2 linked regions of the Homo sapiens genome follow. The protein of the gene in region 1 binds, or shares a complex with, the protein of each later gene. Each region holds a gene or a part of one and is shown in the gene's direction. Other genes may lie near its edges.

Region 1 (12,441 bases):
CCAATTGTATATGGATTATATCTGGCACTTAAAAAAGATAGTGTCCTGTTTTCTCGAACTCAGCACTGGTAAGAGTTATACGGCTGTTGACATTAAAATTCTGTTTTTTGTTTGTTTGTTTGTTTTGTTTTGTTTTGAGAAAGGCTCTCACTGTGTTGCCCAGGCTGGAGTGCAGTGGTGTGATCATGGCTCACTGTAGCCTCGCCCTTCTAGGCTCAGGTGGTCCTCCCACCTCAGTGTGCTGAGTAGCTGGGACTACAGGCACGTGCCACCATGCCTGGCTAATTTTTTGTATTTCTTTTTTAGTAGAGATAGGGTTTCACCCTGTTGCCCAGGCTTGTCTTGGACTCAGCTGAGCTCAAATGATCCACCTGTCTCAGCCTCCCAAAGTGCTGGGATTATAGGCATGAGCCAACTGCACCTGGCCTAAATCTCCTTTTTTTTAAAAAAATGATATCTTGATTAGGAAACATTCAGCAAACATTTTAGGCAATGTTCATAAGGGCAAGTGAAAAATCTTAACACAGGCAATCATAATAGAACAGTAATTTAATTTGAGGCTCATAAACCAACTAGAGAATGACTTTTATTTATATGCATTCTGCTTCTTAGATGACAGGAAACTGTATATACATGGAAGTAATCCAGAAAAACATTTCGTCTCTAGCCTGGGAGAACTGATTTGATCAATTTAAACAGGTAGCTAAATATCTCTAGTTTAGTACATTGTTAGGCTGAAGTTTTTAGTTGCTCTCTGTGATTGTCAGGGCACTTTGTATTCACTGCAAGTCACTCCTGGTGTTCCCACTTGAGGACTTCAAGGAAGTAAGAAATCTTCTTTTAAGCCTTGATATCATTAGCACATTATTTGCTCATTATTTCCTGTAACACTCCTCCTCATCAATGAGTCACTGATAGGCCTATATACAGGCCAGTCTTTGTAAAGTGCAAAAAGTTATTTTATAGCTACAGCATTCATAGTATGGGCTTTATTAATGTAGGAAGGCAGGTGCAAAACAATTCAACCTTACTCAGCTTGGTTCTTAGTTCTGGAAGATTCTTTTAGGATACGTGAGTTGAATCCTTCCAGGTCAAATCCTGTGAGAAATCTGCCTCCTCTTCCTTACATCTATTATGTTTTCACTCTCAGTCCCAGAGTCTTACTGGGGGTCTTAGTTAGGTAGTTCAAATTCAAAGAACTAGATTCTTTACCTTGGTTCTTTCCCACATTTTGCTCTCTAGGTCCCCATTCTGCGAGAACTCCAAGACTAATTCTAAATCCGTCTTCAATGTTCTTGTTTCTCCTGGCCACCAATTCCTAATGCCCCCCTCCACAAGTTGACCCATTTTCTACTAACTAGATCTAAAATTTTATCCTTCATCAATGTTGGCTGTTATCCTCAAAACTCTGTCATCAGTCACATCTTAACCTATTATAGGCCCTATCGACAATACATAGACTATATTGGGTATAAACAATGTTTAAGAATATGTATACAAAGTGTACGGGATATGTTGCTTGTGTTTTGACAAACATTATGTTTCTAATCTTGAGTCATCCCTCGGGATTCCAGGATACCTTCTTCTGCTGTGTATACCAAAATTGGTGCATACTCAAGTCATGCAGTCGACCCTGCGGAACCCACATATATGAAAAGTCAGCCTTCCCTATACATGGGTTTCACATTCTGGAAATATTGTATCTTTGATCTGTGTTTGGTTGAAAATAAATTCGTGTGTAAGTGAACCTATACAGTTAAAACCCATGTTGTTCAAGGGTCACCAGTGCTAATTTTAGAGACATATCCTTAGAAGAAGTATTGCAGACTTCATTTTTAAAAATATAGGTATGTATAGTAAATGCCAAAGTCCTCTTAGTTTTACTTTAATCTCCAACTTGTCCACTTTTAATGTACAGAATTAGATGAGACCCATATGCTTGCCTGGGAAAAATAAGGATAATGGGTTCCCTGTAATCAAGGATACAAATTTCACATCCATCTGCTTAGTGGTTCCCAAGTGCTGATGTCGAGACTAGTGTTCAAATGACTACACAGGAATCATTTGGGGTGCTTTTTCAGAAGTATTGGTTGCAAGGCCCCAGTCTCAGTAGGCTGAATCAGTAGTTTTGGGGTAAAGCCTAGGTATCCACATTTTAAAAGTGATATAGGTAGTTCTAATTTATAGCCAGGATTGGAGAGCACCTAGAGAACTTGTAAGAGTTCTTTCAGCTGTCTGTTTCTGTGGTTTAAGTATCCAAGAAGGCTTCTTCTATCTGCTCCTTACTTTGCACAGGAGACAAGCAAGATGTTCACCTAACATTGTTTCCTTTTGGACTTCTTCAGAGTATTTCCATACTAAATAGTTGTTGTTGTTATTGTTGTTTTAGTGGTAATGATACCTTCTGAATAAGACTTAAATTTCTAACAGTGTACTTATAGTTGAAGAGTGCAAATTCAAGTTAAATAACAGATAAAACAGGGCCAAGGAATAATCTGATTGCCCTGAGGAGGTGGATCTTTGAGGTTTTCATTTTCGTAGCCCTGTTTTGGTATGGCACGCGGAAATCATCTGTCATTAATAAGTCAATATGAGCTTAATTTAGCAGTTCCTCCTATTTGACACTACAGAACATAGAGCTCTTTTTTTGGGGCAGCTTTGAGAAGGCAATACAAATGCAGATAGAGTAATAAATTGTGATTTTTGCAGTAGAGGTAAGGAATATTTAGCCATTTCAGTATTTTTTTATTATTATACTTTAAGTTCTGGGGTACACGTGCACAACGTGCAGGTTTGTTACATAGGTATACATGTGCCATGTTGGTTTGCTGCACCCATCAACTCATCATTTATATTAGGTATTTCTGCTAATACTATCCCCCCCAAGCCCCCACCCCCTGGCAGGCCCTGGTGTATGATGTTCCCCTCCCTGTTTCCATGTGTTCTCATTGTTCAACTCCCACTTATGAGTGAGAACATGCAGTGTTTGGTTTTCTCTTCTTGTGTTACTTTGCTGAGAATGATGGTTTCCAGTTTCATCCATGTCCTTGAAAAGGACATGCACTCATCCTTTTTTATGGCTGCATAGTATTCCATGGTGTATATGTGCCACATTTTCTTTATTCAGTCTGTCATTGATGGGCATTTGGGTTGGAATTTCAGTATTCTTAAAAGAATATTTGATTTGGATGGAGAGGGAGCTGACTTTTCTTAGAGGTTCCAAAGAATGATGGGAATGATTAGGCAAACTAGATTCTTTGTTTAGGTGGCTTTTAATTGCATTCCTTGGGATGCTTGCTATTTATTTACTTGATCTTTTCTCTTGTGCTAAAAGCAGGAAGGAAACCTGTCTTAATAAAGACTTAGGATACTTTGGTTTAAAATGATGAAGGGGAAATTATAACTTTTGTATTATCTATCAGGGATTCAAGATTAGTAAATGGGGCAGGGGTCTCTATCCCTTAGCTAGTTAGGGAAGTGAGGTTATATTAGTGAAATCTTGTTTTCATAGTTCCCTCCACTCTGAAAGTTGGTGTTTTGTAGGAGCATTGTTAGATGCAAAATAAAAGAGTAGGAAGTGCAAACATTGTATAAATGATGGATCTTTCTCTTTTTCTGTGTCTAACTTGCTATTCCTCAATTTAAAATCTTAAACTATATCCATGGATTAGAGTTTACTTCAGTGCTTCTTTAAAATGCAAAATGTGACCTCGTTTTAAAATTTTTGATTTACATATTTGCAAGAACCCATTTATTGTAGGAAGCAAGGAACAGCCATATCCTCCCTGAGGTTGACTGTTTGAATCAAATCCTTTTAAAACACTAATTAGGAAGTTTAAGTGTTCATTTTTGTTCTTTAACAACAGAAGATTCTTGTTATAAAGTTAATGAATACATACACTTCCCAGAATGTCTTATCAGAAGATATATCCTATGTATCTTCAAATAAATGATACATTCCCAAATTTTAGAATTGTTTTATAACTGTATCAGGAAAACAGAAATATTTTTTTCTAAAGGAAGTTATAAGGAGGTGAACCCATCACCAAGCTATGTAGTAAGTATTTTTTCCACAAGGTATTACAAAGCCAAGGACCATCACCAAAAGTAGGAAGAGGTAACTGTGGGTTAGCCACTATGTATTAGTAGTCACAATGAAATACAATGTCTTGGTAAAAGAGGACACCAAGGAAATCAATAATGATGGCACTCAAGTTTTTGAGAAGGTATTATAACCAAATATGGGCATTAAAAATGCATTTGCAACCTACTGGAAGCCTAAGCTATTTTTAAAAGCCCATATGGAAAGCTCAAGATGTGTTTGTTCCATGTGGGTACTGGAGGTGGGTGGGGATACACAAGTAGCTTGCAGTCTCAGAGACTTCTATATGGAAAGCACAACTTTTAGAAATGGAAAAAAATCCAATCAGAGAGAATGGGGAAGCTTATAAGGTAAACAGGTCATGTACAAACTGTATTTTAGGCTGTGTAAAAAGAGAACTTGGTGAAATTCTTTAAAAGCAGTCATGAGTTTTGGAGTTACCTCAAAAGGTAGTGGTTTACTGGAGTAGTAGTGTGTCCATTTGGTGATCATGGTGCAATGAACTTGATAAGAGAAAAGCAATATTTTCAATGCCCTCTTTGTCTAATAAAGGAAGATAAAAGGGACATGCTAACTCCATAATTGTCTTCTGAAATTGATGATGAAGTGAAACTAAGTAAAACTGTAGTAAATGAACAGCTATTCTAGGTCCAGTTAACAAATTAGACATGATAGCTCACCAGAACTTGATAGAATCCTCTTATATTTTGAAGGAACTCAAAGTTTTTGATTAATAAAGCACTTAATGTGCTTTTGGCAGGGTTGGCAATCTTGAGTTTCTACTTGATCAGCAGTATATTTTCAGCAAGATGAATTTAAGTAAGTATATAAAGTTTGTCTTGGGGTAAAATTTTAATTCAAAATTGTATATTATAAGATACAGAATATTTCTGAATCAGGAAACAACAGTGAATTTATAAATCTACGTCATGCCTATACATTTGTTAACCTTGAAAGCCTATGCTTATTCCAGATTTTATTGTAGTGAAGTGTTAAATTATTCTGGATCTTCACTGTGACATGAGTTGTGAAAAGTTCAATGTGTTACCATTTTCTCATGATTACTAGCAATTATTACAAAGGTATAGAATCTTAGTTCAGCTATTGATGATAAGATTACATATAGATAAGATTCCAACTAATGAAAAACAAAGACCTGTAAAGCCTGGAGTCTTTTGTGGTCTGTGTTATTTAGATGGCGGTTTGGAAGTGTAGCTAAGATGATTGGGATATCCGAGTTGGAGAGAGAGGAGTGTTAAAAGGTAATATTGGCAGAATGTTAGAAACTTAAACAGTTCACCTTAGCTTAGGTTAGATATTCTCCCACTATTGCTACATTTGCATTAATGTGTAAACTGTGTATAATCAGCGGCTTTATTCCAAAAAGTGCCTGATGTTTTGGCATGCACTGGATATATTTGCTGTGTGAGAATGTTTGTGATAGCAGGATCAGCTAAGCTCAGTTAGTGTGTATGATTCACTAGAATATGGACTAGCTGCCTGTTTGGGATTACAGTTGTTCTAACAAAGCACATGTGGGGAGTCAGAGGAGTTTGTATGCTTTTACAAAAATGTGTTATTGTCTTATGTGATTTATTTTCCTTCATTAAAAAAATTTGATTCAAAACATTTGTGTTCTTTCTTTTTCTCGTTCCCCACTCCCTTCAGAATAACATAGCTGATCCAGAAGAACTGTTCACAAAATTAGAGCGCATTGGGAAAGGCTCATTTGGGGAAGTTTTCAAAGGAATTGATAACCGTACCCAGCAAGTCGTTGCTATTAAAATCATAGACCTTGAGGAAGCCGAAGATGAAATAGAAGACATTCAGCAAGAAATAACTGTCTTGAGTCAATGTGACAGCTCATATGTAACAAAATACTATGGGTCATATTTAAAGGTAATGTGTGTGCTGTATTATTTAAGTCATAAGGTATTTTCATTAGAAGTTTTTTAATTCTATTTTTTTGAAAGGCAATGTCTTAAATTAGGATTTGGCAGTCTATGGCTTCCAGGCAGAATCCAGCTCCATTTATAGTGCCAAATAAACCGTTGTTAGATTTAGCAGCTGTATTCTGAATGCATCCCAGTACTCAGCTGCACCCCTTTTCCACACCTGAACTTTTGGTTTGATGGAGGAGCAGAAATGCAGCTGGTCCTGGAGACATCTCCTTTGTCAGGAAAGAGCTATCCCCCTGGGTTTCCAGACACTATTCTCAATGGTCTTAACTGTCTCAACCTCAGAGCTGATGGAACATGTAAGTATGTCACTTATTTCATTGAGTTATGGTAGTTATTTACACATTTCTCTCCCCCACCAGGTTGTGAGCTCCTTCATAGCAGGGAGTTTAGCTTAACCAGTCCTGGTACTTACATTCCTTAGCACAGGGTATGGTACATCTTAAGCATGTGGTAAATATTTGTTAAAATGGAATTAAGTGGAATAACATCTGCCTCCCCCTCCAAATAAAAGTTGGATTTTTACTGGTTCCAGGATCATGGGATTAGCAGACACCTGAAGTTCCAGCAGATGGAGGTGTTACTACATAGCAGAAAACTGGTTGGTAAAACCCAGTGGTCCTTGGGTTCCAGAGTTAGAAGTCAGGATTCGTGTCTGTTGAAATGTGAATAATAAATAGTTGAAGAAAAGCCCCCATGAACTCTAGCTTAGTTTGGAGTTTGAATCATTTTAAAATTAAAATTGTTTATCCTTGTATTGCAGTTTTTCAAATGAAGGCTGTGCTAGATCTTTGCCATTCAGGGTTTAAAAGGAGGGAAGTGTTTGTTGTTACTGGTTGATCTATAGGCCAAAAAGAGCGTATCTATAACTAATTAAGCTGTTGGCCTGCGTAAAAATTAATGCTATCATTTTATCCTCTGCTGACCAAATAAAACTTCGGATATCCATCTATACCTTTACGAAATAACCTGTCTTCAAGTTCACAGATTCTTTCTTCTGTTTGATCAGTTCTGCTATTGACACTTTATTGTATTGTTTCATTTCATTCATTGTATTTTTCAGCTTTGAAATTTCTGAGTTTTTAAAATGATTTAATCTACTTGTTAAATTTATCATTTTGTTCATTTATTGTTTTCCTGATTTCACTTGTTTCTTTGTATTTTCTCGAAGTTTGCTGAGCTTCCTTGACACAATTATTTTAAATTATTTGTCAGGCAGTTTATAAATCTCCATTTATTTGGAGTCAGCTACTGGGAAACTACTGTGTTCTTTTGGTGGTGAGATGTCTCCTTGGTTTTTCATGTTTATTATTGCCTTATGTTGATGTCTCTGCAGTTGATAGAGCAATCGCCTCTTCCAGACATTACAGGTTTCAGTGTGAAAAGACCTTCTTCCTCTGTAGGACAGTGTGAGAGCAATGGCTGGGTGGGTTGCAGTGGTTCTGGCTCCAATGAGGGCATAGGAGTATAGTTCCTGTGCAGCTTTGTCACTTGAGATTAGTGTTGACAAAGATTGCAGGGATCCTCAGTGGTCAATACCTTGGTTGTCTACAACAGTGGTGAGGGCTGTTTGAGGTCTTTGGTGGCAAGAGCTGCTAGGGTCCCCCCAGTCTCTTTTTCTTCCACCAGAGAAATCATAGCCGAGTAGATCCCTTTTGGCATTGGGTCTGCTTGTGGGCCCACTTGAGGTGGCACTAGTGTCTAATGAGTGATGCCCATGGAGTGGCCACAGAACTAAGGCTTCAAGCATAGGCATATCTGGAGGGACATGCTCTGGGGCCCAAGCCAATAGTAATACCAACGTCCTAGGTACAAATACCCCCTACTGCTGCACAGAGCTACAGTGGCTCTGAGGGTGGCGTAGGGCCTAGCTATTTGTAACATCTGAGCTGATGTCTGGAGCATAGGCACGCTCAGAGGGACCTTGTCTCCAGAGCCTGGGATGTGAGCTAGCTCACTATGGCAGTGATTAGCTCAAGTGTCTGAGCTGTGGGTGGGTCCAGTGCAACCACTCAGCTGGTCTGGAGTCCAGAACACAGGCTAGCTTTCAGTGGTGACTGTGTGGATGTCTGGAGCATAGGCACACTCAGAGAAACCTTGGCTCCGGGGCCCTGGGGTGTGAGCTAGCTCACTGTGGCAGTGGCTCCAATGTCTGAGGTATGGTTGAGCTCAGTGAAGACGCAGAATCTGGGTCTGGAGTGTGGGCACTAGTGGAGTGGCCATGACTCAGAGGTCTGGAGCTGCATCAGTTTTCAGAGTGGTGGCTTCTTTCTCCATGTGGCTCAACAATGTCTTCTTCTTGAGATGAGAGAGTTTTGTAGTCATGTATTCCTCTTGGGGTTCCCTGGCAGAAATGGCTGTTGACTACCTCAGTAGCAAGAGATGCCAGTGTCCTCTGCAGAGCAGGCCACTGGGGACCATGATGGCTTCTACTGTGTAGTGATACCAATAGCCTCCACCTTTCATCTTTGTTCCTAGACATTTCCTGGCCTCTCAGGTATGCTGATCTCCTCAGTGATCCTTCCTGTGGAGTTATTCTTTCTTTTTTGCTCCACTGTGTTGCTGCAGATTGTTAAATAGGCCCTTGAATCCTTCCAGAGTTACTTGGGTTTGTGGATAGCTGTCTATATTTGGGGGCTTTTTATGTATATGTGGAGGGAGGGGATGATTAAAACTGGTATCTCCTCTGCCGTCTTGGTGACTTTGTCATCGCTTTCCATCTATCTGTATCTATATTGGTTAATACTGATATAGAAATTTATCACAAATTTCACTGCCTGTTTACAAAACCCGACTTATTCTAATATTGGATGTATGTGGTATGAATGCATAGTAGAATGAATCATTAAGCAGCCAAACAGCCACTATATATTACACACTGTATTAGGTGCTGAAGATATAAAAGTGAACAAACTCACTACTGCTGTCAAGGCACTCACAGTCCAGTTTTGCACTGAAATGATGCCAATTTTATGGTTAAAGTATGTACAAGGTATAGATGATGCACAAATTAGTAAGTAGTCACTTCTGTCCTTTTCAGGAGTGGCATGAATAAAAGGCCTCCAAAAGGAGGTGATAATGCTAGTAATTTCTATCCAATTTCAGCATTTACATCTAAGTGTTAGCTATTACTGTATTTTACTACATACATAATTATTTGCTCCTTTGTGTGATAATTTTGCTGTCATATTTGTTCCTAAAAAGCTAATTCAGCCCATCATATTCTTTTTTAGAGATCTCATGAGTGATTACGCAGTCTCAGTAGTTTTAGGTTCTCCTCCTAATTCCCATACAATTCCTTGGTGGTACATGTGTGTGTGTGCGTGTGTGTGTATGTGTGTGTGTGTGTGTGTGTGTCTGTGTGTGTATCATTTGCTCATTCTGGTTTACTCTTTCTGGACTGAATCCCGGTATTTCCAGACTCACTCTAGGGCAAAACTGAATCCTTGCTACTTTTAGGCACCTGTGACAAAAACACTATTTTTGGTTGCTGACCTAAAATATTAAATACGCCCTATTTAAAATGGCTATTCCATAATATATTGAAAATTGGTACTGATATGGTTTGACAATTTTATTGGTTGCTTATTTATTCATATTCAATACTCCCATGGAAAATGAGTGACAGCTCTATCTTCTTTTCCTAAGATTTCATATAGAGTGTTTTTTAAGTTGCACAGTAGTATACATGTACTAGTCACCCAGTATTTACTTAATCTTTAAATAATTAAAAACTAGTTTTTTGTTTGTCCCAAATTTTGATTGTAAAGTGTACTCAGACCAGCCAGTGCTACAAAACCATCGTCCAAGATAGCTTCTTAAGGGATTAAATCAAATTATTTTTATCTCCTTCACCCATCATTAACTAAACTCTATGATATAAAACACTACTTTGAAGAACATGTTGCTTCATGATAAAATTGTAGAAATGTGCAGCTGGCTTATGTTGATTATTTGTGTTCTGAATCTATTTAAAGTAAATAAATCTGTGTGTATATACATATGTCTTGAGACATATGTATATACACACAGAGAAAGAAATATTCTATAATCTTACAACGTTTTCATACCATGTATTTAAATCACTTTCTTAAATTGACCAACTCATTTATTTTCCATTTATATTACAACATAGTATGACTGTGTGGGTTTGTATTTTTTTCTAAACTAAAATCACGTCAAATATAACAGGATTCTGTTTCATGTAGTCAACATAAGTCAAGGCCACATCCTCTTTGTGCCATCAGGGAACTGTGTTATCAGTCAACTTACATACTTATTGTGGCCCATTGTTCCATTTCAGGTGACATGGAGGATTTTGTGAGTCAAGTTAATTGAGCAAACTGGGAAATGGGTTGTTCTTACACAGGATGTCATCCATAACTAAGACCTCACTGTAAGCTGGAGGAAAAGTTTATTACATTTGAGAGAAAATTATATGTTCTTTGAAACTGTATGCAGTTGTAGTGATTTCCTTGAGACATGCAAAAAATGTACTAGGTATTCATTTTGACTAAGCTCACTGTATAACTTCATTTTTGAAAACAAGAGTTAAAAACCAGACAAACACATCAGTATGACCACAGTGTTTTCCTTTAATTTTAGTTCACTGGGCAGATTTTCTTGACAAAGTTAGTCTTTATGAAGAGTGCTAAAATAAGCAAACCCTTCCCTTCTGATCTCATAATATTGGAATAATCTTTTATAATCTTTAAATATTTTTCTAGTTCAGTGTAAATCTTAAAATGACACTCAGGCATTGAATAGAATTTGAATCATGCCTTTATTTGCTGCTGAAAATTGCCTTTAGATTTCTGTGTATGTTAAGGAAATATTGCCTCCCACCCACCATCACCAGTATTTATGAAAAAAAAAAGAATTGAATGAAGTAAAATATTTCAGAATCATCTGTACGGCTTTGTGGCCTTCTCCTTATTTTTCACTGAAACTGTATGTGCTTACAGCCAGTTTATGTATGCTCAATGCCTCTGGAATATTCTTTTATTGTTAACATTTGTTTTGGAGTTCTCTTATAAAACTTGAAGAAAATGGAGGCTAGAAAGTTTGTTCCTTCTTAAAATGTTCTTTTCTCAAAATAGGAATAGCTTTAAACTTAATATAATACACCTCTAAGAAGCCCCATGTTAGATTCAATTCAACAGACGCTTATTTATTAATGCCTACTATGTGTATTCCTCTTCTTTTGCATATTGTGGTTAATCTCATCTACTTTCGTCTGACAACTTCTAAACTGATGTCTCTGGTTTCATCCTCTCTGCTCAGCCCCAGATATGTGTTTATAACTTGCTTCATATTAATAGCCTGCTTATCTGTGAGTACATCAAGTGCAATAACCCTCAAACTAGGGAGGTAGCATTTGAACTAAGTCTTGAGAATGATTTTGATAGGGGTTGGAAGGTGCAAGTGGGGTAGGGACACAGCATTCCAAGCTGGAGGAAAATGACTCAGAAGTGGTAAATTTTCTAGCCATATTCTTGGCAAGATGATCTCTACTGTCACTTCCAGTTTTATAAAGTCTTATGTGCTGTATGTTTTTTTTAATCAGGCAAAATATACTTAACACTAAATTTGCCATTTTAAGTGTACAGCTCTCTGGCATTGGCTACATTCACATTGATTTTGTGTTTTTTTTGTTTGTTTGTTTTTTGGGTGGTTTTTTTTTTGTTTTGTTTTTTTGTTTTGCTTTTTTTTTGTGACAGGGTCTCACTCTGTCTCCCGAGCTGGAGTACAGTGGCGCAGTCTTGGCCCACTGCAGCCTCCACCTCCCAGGTTCAATTGATCCTCCCACCTCAGCCTCCCGAGTAGCTGGGACTACAGGCATATGCCACCACACCTGGCTACTTTTTTGCACTTTTTGTAGAGATGAGGACTCCCTATGTTGCCTAGACTGCTCTCAGACTCCTGGACTCAAGCGATCCTCCCACCTCGGCCTCCCAAAATACCAGGATTACAGGCGTGTTGTGCAGCCCTCACCACCACTGATTTCCAGAACAAATAAGGATTCCTTATTTTCAGATCTAGAAATTGAGTAGTTGTAATTTTAATGCTTAATGGTATATACTACTTTGTAAAGTCACATTTCAAGCTTTCTATGAACACGTTTTACTGACAGACAGTTGGCAAGTTTCTGTTTTGAATTAGTACAAACAAAAAGGCACACATTGTTTTTAACTTGGAAAACAGGTGCTTTCATTCATGCAGAACTGCAAAATAGGCAGGCATGTTTTATAAGATCTTTTTCTTTTAAATGTCAGGTGAATGGGAAGCTCTCTGAATTCATATGATAGAGTATAGTACTTGTTAGAAACAAACTTGTGGCAGAAGAAACAATTTTTAACCTATCCACCATTGTAAGAACCA
Region 2 (12,441 bases), on another chromosome or scaffold:
CGATGGAGACCACGAGGGCCAATATGTGCTCCTCTGCAGGGGGTGGGCAGGGAGGGCCTCTGTGGGCATTAAATGGAGGGTAAGCCACACGAGTGGCTGGGAGGAGAATGTTCTAGGCAGAGGGCACAGTGAACCCCGAGGTCCAGAGGCAGGAGAGACGCAGCCTGCACAGAAGCAGCACGAGGCCGGCATGGCCGCAGGCAGTGAGGCGTGGGCTGCGGGGAGGTTGTGGTCTCAGGAGTCAGCCACTCAGGGCCTTGGGCTGGGATAGAGTCTGAGTTTGACTCAGGGTTGTGGGAAGCCAGTGCTTTCGAGCAGCGGGGTGACATAATCTGACGTACCTGATCCACTCTGAGAAGGAGAGGTGTGGGAGGGTCACAGAGGAGGCAGGCGGACCAGTTAGGAGATGGCTCGATGTCTGGGACAGAGCTGATGGACTTTAGCGGTGGTGAGGCGAGAGGTGTCAGCTTCCCCAGAGGCTTTCAGGCAGTCGACACTGAAGGACTGCAGCTAAGGGGAGAGGAAAAGAAACGAGCGACTCCAGGGTTTGGTGTGAGCCATTGGAGCAGCATCCCCTGAGACGGGGAAGCCTGGGAGTGGAAGTTCTGGGGGCCGCCGAGGTTGTGTGAAGTGTGAGGGGCCTGTTTACCCCCATGTGGAGAAGCAGAGCTCGTCTGGAGCTGCGGGGCATTTGGCCCCTAAACATAGGTCTAGTTGAACAAGCACATGGGCATTCTTTGGAAAGCCATGGCCGTCTGCAGTGCCTGCAGGAGTGAGTGTAGATGACGCAGAGAAGAGATCTGGGGACTGCCCGGGTGCTCTCCCACTTAGAGGCTGGAGGGAGGAACAGGAGGAGGAAGCTGAGAAAGAGGCTGAGCCTGTGCGGCGTGTCAGTGTCGTTGTGGGAGGAAGGCCGGTGAGAATGGAGTCCTGTGTCCCGCTGCAAGTGCAGCGAGTGTTCTGAGGATGGAGTGGAGCTCTGGTGATGGCAGCCGTGAGGCGAGAGGGTACATCTGCAGTGACCTCTGCACCCGTTGGTAACTGGCAGTTGACAAGACCTCCAGGGCATCAACCTGATGGCAGAAAGGGGGGACGTTTTCGTCGATCTGCACTTGGAATTGCACCCTGCCTTCTCCCGCAGTCAGGCTGGGTCAGTACCTCCTCTGCTATAACTTGTCATGAAGTTGGAAGCCAGGAGGTGGAAGGAGGAGTGCCATCTGTTGCTGGGGATAGTGCAGGCTCCTGGGTAGCAGGGATCGCCGGCGCCCCTGCTTGCGCGAGGCTGGCTGGCTTTCGGCGCCTCCCAGAGCATTTGTAGAATGGCCGGTTCCTCTTTCCTGCAGGGCGTGTTTGCCTCCTGCCTGACCTGCCCTTGTGGTCTGACTGGGCTGTGGGAATGGGGACTGCTGAGTCAGTGGCACTTTCTCATCCAGCTTTCCTTCTGACTCAGCACAGGATGGAGATTTGTGACCAGGGTTGGGGGCTGGCCCTCTGAAACTCAGGTCGGCGGTCATTGAGGAGCTGGGCCCCGTTTGCGGTCTGAGTGAGGCTTCCAGTTGGAATGAGCATTTGTTGGGCAGAGGCTGGGGTTGGGGCTCTGTGTGTGACCAGAGTCAAGGCTGCTCAGGGGTTAGGGGGTTAGCTGGGTCTGGGCTCTGGCCACCAAGCCTGGGAGGGCACCTTCCTATCTGAGCTTTGACACCTGCCAGGACTCATGCCTCCTCTGCTCTGCTGTCTTTGGCAGGAACGCGGCAGGCAAAGATGGCAAAGAGCGCTTGGGCGGCTCAGTGCTGGGGCAGATCCCCTTCCTGCAGAACTGCGAGGACGAAGACAGCGACGAGGACGATGAGCTGGACAGCGTGCAGCACAAGAAGCAGCGTGTGAAGGTGAGCCCTTCCTCCATGCCCTGCACAGCCTGGCCTGGGTGTGACCTGATCGAAGCCCTTCCGAGTCAGCCTGGGCCTTCAGGGGCTGCGGTGTGTGCTGGCAGCAGGGATATGGAGACACACAGGCCCTGGCCTGGAGGAGCTTGTGGCCAGCAGCGGCCTTGTAAATAGTCATGTGCAGAAGGACGCGTTGTGGTGGAGGCAGGGGCATGTGCCTATGAAGGAGGCACCTGTGGCAGATGGCCTCGGAGCTTTCCCTGAGCCCCGGGCTTCCCATTAGCGGGTCCCTTTGCCTAGGTCCCCTTTCTTTCCTCCTTTAGACTCAGCTCAGACACCCCCTCCTCCAGGAAGCCTTCTCTGACTCACCCTGGGCTCCCTTCCCTGGCCCTGGCCACTCTGGGGTCCTCCCTGTCTGGTCTGTATTCCTCCTGACCTCTCCCTGGGAGGGACTGGGCCTGTGTGGGCCTCCACTGCATCTCCAGTATCCCCAGTGTGGCTCAGCACAGAGTCGCACCCCAAGTAGAGTGGTGTGCACGGAGCCGCAGCACTGCAGGAGGCCTAGAGGAAGAGCAGGAGGGCTGAGTCCAGGGTCTCAAATGCTGGCCCCTGGTCCAGACGCTTGGTCCTTCCCACCCCTCTGAGAATTTCTAGTCCTTTTCCACCCCTCCACCCATTCCATCAGGAATCATCCGTGGTGTTTGCACCCCTTCGGGCCCACACCCTTGGGCTGGCTGGTTGGGTAGGGCTCTCTGTCTCTACGCAGCAGCCCTCCATCGAGGCCCAGCTGGGAACCCAGGGGACTGCCCATGGCTCCCAGGGGGCCCTGGCCCAGCTGCGTGAGTTCTGGCCCACACTTCTTTGTCTTGGCTTCAGTCTCCTCACCCTTTAGATGGGGCTGAGTCCCTCCGTCTGAGTTGTTGAGGATTTAATTAGAATGAGCTGGTGCCCAGGAAGCCCTCAGCTGCATGGTGGCTGTCCCCCAAGTGCTCAGTAGGTGTTAGTGGCGCTGGTGGCACTTGGTAGTGGTGGAGCCCTCATGGTTCCAGGCACTGTTGGCAGAGCACAATTGCCACTCGTGTGCCCCTCAGAGCACCTGTGGTGGTTCTCTCCTCTGGAGTCCTGAGCCCGGCCGCTGCCTTTCTGGGCATGCTGTCTAAACCCTCCCCTTCCCCATTCTTTGCACAAGTGTTGAATAAACCTTGGCCCTAGGTCTTCTCCATGCCCCTTCCCTCTGGTCCCCCCCATGCAGGTCAGAGGCTGGCCCCTCACTGGTGCCCGAGAGGTGTCGCCAAACTCAGCCTGGGGGGCTGACATGTGGAAGGGGTCAGCCACGCCCTGGAGGAGTTCACAGTGGGCAGAGCTTGGCCTTGGTGACCTAGGGCAAGTGGGTTCCTGCTGCTCAGCCTGTCTCCTGGCCTGTAATGTGGGAATGATAATGACAGTGTTCACGGTAGCTGTTCGCAGGGTTGGGGGTTAAGTGAAGTCGTGTCTGCGAGGGGTAGTCAGTGGTCATTCAGTGAGTGGAATTTGCTCTTGTGCCAGCACGGCTGCTGGTGCTGTGTTTATCGCTGCAATGCTGTGGTCCATTCATCCTCACTTGTTTGCACCTCCGTATATTCACACACGGACACCAGTGCATATCTGCCCTCCCTGCAGGCAGATTGTTGCATTATCTGACTTTTCTTCATCCGAGGCACCTTGCTGGGGGACTGGAGCAGGCTGAGCCCTGGCTAGGGGAAGGACTGCGTGAGGGTGGGGTCAGGCCGACCGGCCCTAGTGGTAGCAGCTGTCCAAGGCCCAGCAGGGGGCGCTCCAGGGCAGCTGGCTGGCGGCTGAGGCAGCCCCATGAACAGAAACGGGCCCAGAGCCCCGGCTTACCTGTTCCTAGGCACGGAGGTGGCTTAGTCTCTGGACAAGAGGCCCCCTGACTTGTCTGGCTTTCTCCATGTGCCAGCTCCCATCCAAGGCTCTGGTGCCCGAAATGGAAGACGAGGATGAGGAAGACGACTCTGAGGATGCTATCAATGAGTTTGATTTCCTGGGCTCAGGAGAGGATGGGGAAGGGGCTCCAGACCCTCGGCGGTGCACTGTGGATGGGAGCCCCCATGAGCTGGGTGAGCTGACGTTTTCTGGCCAGCCCCCGCTTGCCTTCCCCACCGAGGGGGTGGGAGCAGGCTCAGCTGCCCGCAGCTGCTTCCTGTACAGGGTCTCTCTACCGGACGGATATGTTTCCTGAGAGGAGGGTAGCCAAGGAGAGCAGGAGGCCCAGGTCATGGCCGCCGGCCCCTCACCCCTTCCCTGGAAAATCCCCATGGAGACGCAGGCAGTCCTGGCTCTTCCTGAAGTGGGGCCGCCAGCCCTCCAGGGCGGGCGTCCAGCTCTGGCTGGCCTCAAGGAGGGAACAGGATGAGGACCCAGTCGGGGAGAGGCAGGTGGGAGGGCCGCATCTTCCTCCCTGTCCTGTGACTCCTAGCTAGGAGGGCTCTCAGGATACGTGGGATGGGTGGCTGGGGCCTGAGGCCTAGGCAAGGCAGTGACCTGCCCACTGCCCCACGGAGGGGCCCAATCAACCTCCTCTCCTCTGCCCATTCCCCCCCTCCCCCAGGGCCAGAGCTTCACAGCCCCACAGAGTGGCAGGGGGCCCTCAGTGTGGGGAAGGCGTCACCTATGCCAGACTGGGTTGGAACTGCTGGGTGACTCCGGCCCTATGCCTCGACCCTGCAGAAAGCCGTCGGGTCAAACTCCAAGGCATTCTGGCTGACCTGCGGGATGTGGATGGGCTGCCCCCAAAAGTGACTGGCCCGCCTCCTGGCACACCCCAGCCCCGGCCACATGAAGGTAAGAGGCACCCCCCACCTGGTCCCAGTCCTGCGGGCCCATGGCAGAGGGAGGCTGCAGAGCTGAGCCCAGGGCTTCTGTGTCTTCAGGGTCGAGGCCCAGCCTCCAGTCTGCAGCCTCCCTGCCCCAAAAGTTCGTCTGTCTGTCTGTCTCCCTCTCTTTTTGTCTGTCCTGCCCTGTCTGTCTCTCTGTCTCTTTCCAGCTGTGATTCTTCATCTTGTCCTCTCCCCGTCTCTCTCTCTTGCTCTTTATCTCTTTCTCTGCCTCTCTCTGTCATTCTCTCTCTCCCTGGCCCTCTCTGCCCCTCCCTCCCCTCCCCCTACCAGGTTCCTTTGGCTTCTCCTCAGACGTCTTCATCATGGACACTATCGGGGGCGGGGAGGTGAGCCTGGGGGACTTGGCAGATCTCACCGTCACCAACGACAACGACCTCAGCTGCGATGTAAGTTCTCCGGGTGCCCCCCACACTGTCCCCATTGGCATTGCGCCCAGGGCCAGCCCCTGCAAGCTCTGACTGGGTGCCGCCCGTGCCCTGCTCATCCTGTTTCACAGAGGGGTGCAGATGTAGACAGTGGAGGGACTTGACTGCGGTCGCCAAGGCGCAGGGCCTGGAAGACTCTGGAGCCTGTGTTTTAATCACAGTTCCACGGCTCCTCCACTCTGCCCCTCCCACCCTGGTGATTTGGAATGCAGGAAGATGACCTGTAGCCACCCCCTGCTCTGCCAAGTCAGGCCAATCTAGTGTGAATGGGCAGCTGGGCTGAAATGAAATGTTCCGGGCCTCAGTGGACGGGCCTCTGGCCATCTGGGAGCCTTTGGCCAGCTGGGAGCCTTTGGCCAGCTGGGAGCTTTTGGTGTGGGTGTATGTGCACATTTTACTGTGACAGAATGGGATTTCCAGTGTTGGTGACCCTAGTAAGGCTGGGTGGGGACTGCTGTGAGATTCAGGAAGGGGGGTCAGAGCAGAGGCCTGAGAAGTGGAGTGTGCCATGGGGTCCCTCTGCACGCCCCAAGATGTCATTTCATCTTGGGGAAGTGCAGTGTTCTGAGCCCCGCTAGGGGAGGGGGTGAGTGAACCACACAGTAGCAGATCCTCTGACCCTAAAGAACTGTGGCAGAAGGGACAGCTAAGGCAGGGACGTCAGCTGGGAGCCCATCTTGGGGCATGGTGCTGAGGCTTGCCTGGTACTCTGCTCGTCATCTCTCCGGAACCTGGCCCTCTCCGGGTCCCCTGCTGGGTGAGCGGCACCAGGGCGCATGCAGCGTGGTGGACAGAGGCCCCCACAGCTCTCCCACTTGTGCACTGCCTCCCCTTCATGGTCACGTGTCTGGTCTCCATGCCCTCATCTCCCCTGGGACTTCCTGGCCTCTCAACCTCTTTCTCTGAGGCTACCTTTTTTTTTTTTTTTTGCTCCTTGAGGGGATCTCCCTATGTTACCCAGGCTGGTCTCGAACTCCTGGGGTCAAATGATCGTTCTGCCTTGGCCTCCCAAAGTTCTGGGATTACAGGCGTGAGCCACTGTGCCCCGTCTGTGGCTACTTTTACCTGCCCCTAATCTGAGCCTCTCAGGGGTGGCAGGAACAAGCCATGTCGTTCCCCTGCTCTAAACACTTCCCCGGCTCCTTGTTTCTCTGAGGCTTTTTCTTAGGATGAAATGCGCATTCCTCCGGGGCTCACCACCCAGCACCTGTCTCATCCCCTGCCACTCTCCTTGCCTCCTGCAGCCTGTACCACTGACCTCTCAGGCCTGGGCTCGCCCTTGCTGCCTCAGGGCCTCTGCACGGGCCCTTTCCCTCTCCAGGGCCCTCTCCTTATCTTGTGAAGTCCTGCTGGCTCGTGCTTCCTCAGGAAAGCCTCAGTGGCCCCCAGGGAGGAGGGCAGGCTGCCTGATGTCTCTCTGTGCATCTTTAATTCATTGCCCTGCTCATGGCTGATGATCCTGCACACTTGTGGGATGGTCCAGTTGTGTCCCCCATTCCCCTTCCTCTCAACTGCAAGACCCCAAGGGGTCAGGCTCACCTTTGTCTCTCCAGAACCCAGCGCAGTGTGGGGACTTGTTGGGCGAGCATGGAGACTCTGCCCAGCAGAGGAAGGGGAGAGTTCCCGGCTGGAGCCCAGGCTCTGAGGGCATTCCTGCCAGGGTCATGTGGGTGGAAGACAGGGGCCCTCAAGCCCTGGGTGTCGGTGTCTGCATGACTGCTGGGATGGATGCGAAGACACTGAGGCAGCTCCCCCCAACCCCAGCTGTCTGACAGCAAAGATGCTTTTAAGAAGACGTGGAACCCCAAGTTCACCCTGCGCTCGCACTACGACGGCATTCGTTCCCTGGCCTTCCACCACAGCCAGTCGGCTCTGCTCACCGCCTCCGAGGACGGCACGCTCAAGCTCTGGAACCTGCAGAAGGCGGTCACGGCCAAGAAGTGAGGGCAGCAAGCTCAGAGCCGGGGGCAGGGGCATCTGGGGACGGGGGTGACAGGGTCTCAGTGACATCAGGCTCCTCTGTCATCCCACAGGAATGCGGCGCTAGATGTGGAACCTATACATGCTTTCCGGGCTCACAGGTAGGGAGGTGCCCCTGAGCCTGCTAGAAACTCGTCCTAAATGCAGCCTGACTCCTGACCTGCTCACTGCCATCGCGGGAGGCCCACGGCAGGAGGCAGGACAGCAGGGGGCTCTGAGTCCCCGCCCCCTTCATGATATACACAGCCCTGGTTCTTGGGGCTCCATGCTGACTTTCACATGCCCTGGCAGCTGGTACTCAGCACAGCCCTTCAGGGGAGGAGATGGAGGTGGGGTGGGGGAGGGCAGGGGACAGGCAGCTTGTCCAGGTAGCATGGCCAGAGCCCCAGTCACTGAATTCCTTTTGGCCATCCTTGAAGAATGCTAGTAGGGAACTTAGGTCCTGTGGCCAGGGGAGGCCCTGAGCTTGTCTCATCCCCCTTTCCACATATTTGTCCCTTCCAGGGGCCCAGTGTTGGCTGTGGCTATGGGCAGCAACAGTGAATACTGCTACAGTGGCGGGGCAGATGCCTGCATCCATAGTTGGAAGATTCCAGACCTCAGCATGGATCCCTATGATGGCTACGGTGAGGACAACGCCTCCCGCCTTCCCCTCACATCCACTGGGGCCTGGCCGTCCCCTCCACGCACACACACGTCGCGTCCACCTCTTGCCAACACTGCAGGCCTCAGGAGTGCGTGTGACGGCTCCCCTGTCTGCTCTGTTGTGAGCAGCGCGATGCAGCGCGTGGCCAAGGGACGAGCCAGCCGGGATGGGAATGATGGCTGTGGGAGGAGGTGGTGAAGCTGCCTGAGAATCTCTGTGAGCCGGCGTCCAGAAGGCAGTGCTGAGGCAGCCCAGGCTGGGAGCAGCCCATGCACAGGCGTGGCTGGCCCTGGCAGCCTCTGCTCTGCCATGCCGTGTACTCTGTGTGTGGGGATCCGCCAGGGTCTCTGCGTGGTTGAGGGGAGGGCATGTCCAGAGAAAGCAGAGAAGGTGGAGTTAGCTGGGCCAGGCTGGAGCGCGTTGGGGCTTTCTCTTTGGAGCATCTAAGACCTAAGTAGGGAAGTGACCAGACTGTCACTTCTGTTCAACATCTGTCCCCCTGTTCTCTGCCTTTTTTTTTTTTTTTTTTTTTTTTTTGAGACAAAGAGTCTCACTCTGTCACCCAGGCTGGAATGCAGTGGCGTGATCTTGGCTTACTGCAACCTCTACCTCCTGGGTTCAAGTGATTCTCGTGCCTCAGCCTCCCGAGTAGCTGGGATTACAGGCACGCACCACCATATCCAGCTATTTTTTGTATTTTTGGTAGAGACAGGGTTGCACCACGTTGACCAGGCTGGTCTTGAACTCCGGACCTCAGGTGATCCACCCACCTTGGCCTCCCAAAGTGCTGGGATTGCAGGCATGAGCCACTGCGCCCGGCTCTGCCTCCTTGATCATGCACCTGGCCCTGTGCTCCACCTTGTCTGGGCAGAGTTCAGAGGTCTTTGTCTCCTCTCAAGGGGAGGACAGACTTTAGAGAACAGGCTCACCTGCACAAGGTCAGGATCGGTCCCAGCTACATTAGCCACCACACTTTCGGTGTCAGCAGGCCAGAGCTGCTGGTGTGGACTCCAGCAACCAGGGAAGCAGTGATTGGACCTCTGAATGACCAGGGGGCTTTGGAGAGACCAGGCAAAGCCCATGCACTTGGCCATGGGCTGAAAAGACTGCTCGGGCCAGGGTTGGGACCAACCCTTGTCCAGCACAGGCTGCGTGCCGCTCCTGGGGCCACAGAACCATGCTGTTCCTTCTTCCTTAATGGAGCCCGAAAAATTCTGTATTGAGCTCCCAGTTTCTGGGCCCTGCTTGGGGAGACAGCTGTGAATAGAGGGAAATCCCTGCCTTCTGGAGCCCTAGAACCTTCCTTGGAGAGCTAGTGGGCAGTGTGAGCAGCTGCCGGGCTGTCCTGGCAGTGGACAGTTCCGAGGGGCACCAGGTGTGAAGTGGGTGCGTGGGTGATTGGAGCCCAGCTGCCTGGGGCTTGGCAGAGCTGGGGCTCTGGGCTGTCCAGGGAGGAGCTGGCAGCCCTGACACAGCCCATTTCCTCCCTGCGGTGGGTGCAGACCCAAGCGTGCTGAGCCACGTCCTGGAGGGCCACGGGGACGCCGTGTGGGGCCTGGCCTTCAGTCCCACCTCCCAGCGCCTGGCCTCCTGTTCTGCTGATGGCACCGTCCGCATCTGGGACCCCAGCAGCAGCAGCCCGGCCTGCCTCTGCACCTTCCCCACAGCCAGCGGTGAGTGGGGGCCCCGGTGCCTCACCCTGGAGCTGTGCGGGATCTGGAGGCTATCAGAGTGGTTCCTGCTGAGGCCCCAGGCCTCCCACCCACTGTCCCCCACCCTGGGGCAGGGCTGGGTCTGAGGGTCCATTCAGCAGCCTTCTCTTCCCTGTGCCCTCAGAGCACGGGGTCCCCACCTCAGTGGCCTTCACCAGCACCGAGCCTGCCCACATCGTGGCCTCCTTCCGCTCTGGCGACACCGTCTTGTATGACATGGAGGTTGGCAGTGCCCTCCTCACGCTGGAGTCCCGGGGCAGCAGCGGTAAGGGGGCTGACATCAGCTCATGGAATTGGTCTCAGTGTCTTCTGGGCCCCACTTCCTCCTGGGGCTTTGGCGACCCCTTGTCAGTCAGCTCAGATGACTCCCCTGCACCCTCAGGCCCTGAGCAGGAAGGAAGTTGGGTCCCAGTGGAGGGCCCCCGGCCCTCACAGCCAGGGCACTGGCGGGGCTGAGTGGGGAGAGCGCGTCAGGGCCGCCCCGTCGGGCCCTCTTGGTAGAGTGGCGGAATGTGTTCATGTTTGTTATTCCTCTTCCCCCGCCCCAAAACAGGGCCCAGGGGCTGCTTGTGCAGAACCAGCGCTGCGGTCGGGGACCGGAGTGCCCTCGCCCAGCCCCCCTCGACATCCAGGCAGAGGCTGGTGTAGGGGCTGTCACGCTGCGCTTGTGCCTCTGTTCTGGTCTTCCTGATTTTCTGCTTGACATCCTTCCCTCTTCCTGCGTTTTCCTTCAGGTCCAACCCAGATCAACCAAGTGGTGAGTCATCCAAACCAGCCTCTCACCATCACCGCCCACGACGACAGGGGCATCCGCTTCCTGGACAATCGGACAGGTGAGGCCTAGCCCCTTGTGCTCGTAGTGGGTGGGGAGGGCCAGAGGCAGGCAGCAGAGATGCTTGCGTCCCTGTGGGAGGCTCTGGGAGTCTCTCGTCCAGTCCTTTCACTCTCTCAGGCGAGGCCCAGAGTGGGAGGGGAACCTGCCACCCGCCCTTCTCGCCTCAGGTAAGCCGGTGCACTCCATGGTTGCACACCTGGACGCAGTCACCTGCCTAGCCGTGGACCCCAACGGCGCATTCCTGATGTCAGGAAGTAAGTTGAGCACACTAGTCCCACCAGGGTTGGGGAGAAGGGGAGGAAGAGGCCTGGGCACTGGCTCCAGGCAAGTGCTCAGGGGGCCCCGGGGGCCAGGGCTGGGGGAGGCTGGTCTGGGCGGGAATGACCGTGGTGACCATAGGGGGCAGCACAGTCCGCTGGGGCCCTCCTCTGGGTCACTGGAGCTGCATCGTCTCATTCGGCCTCTAAGCAGCCTGTGCGGTTGGTACTTTGATCCCCAGTTTACAGATGTGGGCCCTGATGCCCAGACGCTTTGTAACTTGGCCATTGAAGCTCTGTAACATCAGTCCAGGTCTACCTGGGGGTACCCGTGGGACTTCTGTGCTCCCACCCTGTTGTCTCTGGATAAGGGCATTGAGGCCAGCAACGTGGCTGTGCTTAGAAGGGATGGAGTGTGACGTGGGTGGGTGGAGAAGGAGACTGGAGGTCGCTGTGGGGGTGAAGGGTGAGGCCTGCAGTGAGTGCAGCAGTGAGTGTGTGTGCACAGAGGCGCAGGCCGTGGTGTTGGAGGCTGTGGCTGGGCTCTGCCTCCGGGCCTGTGCTGGCAGCCTCTGGTGGGTGAGGGGCTGGTCAGTGAGCTCCAGCCCAGTGCCCAGACAGGGCTCTATTCTGGGGGCCACTAGACAGTGGAGGGAGCTGAGCCTTTGCCCTGCCTGATCCTCTTGACCCTAAATTAAACTTCTCCTCGCCAGGGCCCTGCCCAGCCTGCCGTCCTCTCCCCTCTTCTCCCCAAGTCCCTGCTAAGGCTCTTGTGGCCACCCCCACCTCCTGCCTCAGGACCTTTCCCGCCTGTCCTTCTGCCTGGAAGGCTCCCTGCATTCCTCCTGGGGCCATTCTGTCCTCACACTGACCGGCTGGGTTGCTTTCTTCTTTCTCTTCCTGTTGCCCAGCTGCAGCGTCAGTGCTGCGGGGCAGGGAGAGTTGCCTGTTTTGTTCACTGCCCCTGCCGCCCTGGGGCTCAGTGTGCAGTAGCTGCTCAAGAAATGCTGGGGGATGAGATGGACTGTGGACAGGAGGGGACCAGGGTTCTCCTTTGGGCGGGCCACAGGAGGTGATGAGCAGAGGGTGAGAGAGGAGAGTTGAGCCCCACTTCCCCTGAGGCCTTTGGACAAGGCCAGGTGAGGGGTTCCAGGGCTGCGTCTGAGCGAGGAGCCCAGTGACCACCCCTTCTGTCCCCGACACATGTGCAGGCCATGACTGCTCCCTGCGTCTCTGGAGCCTGGACAACAAAACGTGCGTGCAGGAGATCACGGCCCACCGCAAGAAGCACGAGGAGGCCATCCACGCTGTTGCCTGCCACCCCAGCAAGGCCCTCATTGCCAGTGCTGGCGCTGATGCCCTGGCCAAGGTCTTCGTATGATGCCCACCTGGCCCTGCCCTGGCCGCCACGCTGGCTGGGGTGTAGGGCCGGGCAGGTGGGGCTGAGGTGAGGGCAGAAACCCCGCATTCTGAGTCTCTGCACGCCCATGCCTAGTACTGCCAGGTGTGCTGAGCCCCGCAGTCCAGTCAGGGGCGTCCTGTGAGAATCACTGGGGGAGCCCTGGGCATGCAGGGGAGGGGTTGAGGCCTTAGAGGCGCCCTAGAGGCGGCGGCTCAGTCTCCCCTCCCTTCTCTTTCCCGCAGGGGACTCCCAGCCTCGCTGGAGGTGCAGAGGCCTGGCCTCTGTCTGTTTGCCATGGAGCCTGGTGGTGCTAACGGCCCTTTCCCCAGGAATCCCTCCCCAACGGCTGCCTTCCCCAAGCATCCAGCCTGGGGATGGGCCCCTTTCAGGAATCACCCCCGAGG

What was found.
Region 2: STK26 (region 1) and STRN4 share a complex: the UniProt entries of both Homo sapiens proteins name them as parts of the core of STRIPAK complex.

The regions. Positions count from the first base shown.
Region 1 is NC_000023.11:132,048,861-132,061,301, forward strand, and holds part of STK26 (serine/threonine-protein kinase 26), read left to right. Parts: intron 1-4,862; exon of another isoform or gene 4,863-4,921; intron 4,922-5,770; coding exon 5,771-6,001; intron 6,002-12,441. UniProt on the Homo sapiens protein: Serine/threonine-protein kinase that acts as a mediator of cell growth. Modulates apoptosis. In association with STK24 negatively regulates Golgi reorientation in polarized cell migration upon RHO activation.
Region 2 is NC_000019.10:46,720,177-46,732,617, reverse strand, and holds part of STRN4 (striatin-4), read left to right. Parts: intron 1-1,744; coding exon 1,745-1,886; intron 1,887-3,840; coding exon 3,841-4,000; intron 4,001-4,610; coding exon 4,611-4,724; intron 4,725-4,926; coding exon of another isoform or gene 4,927-5,071; coding exon 5,072-5,166; intron 5,167-6,969; coding exon 6,970-7,145; intron 7,146-7,238; coding exon 7,239-7,286; intron 7,287-7,689; coding exon 7,690-7,811; intron 7,812-9,333; coding exon 9,334-9,504; intron 9,505-9,667; coding exon 9,668-9,808; intron 9,809-10,277; coding exon 10,278-10,376; intron 10,377-10,545; coding exon 10,546-10,632; intron 10,633-11,846; coding exon 11,847-12,016; 3' UTR 12,017-12,082; intron 12,083-12,279; 3' UTR 12,280-12,441. UniProt on the Homo sapiens protein: Calmodulin-binding scaffolding protein which is the center of the striatin-interacting phosphatase and kinase (STRIPAK) complexes.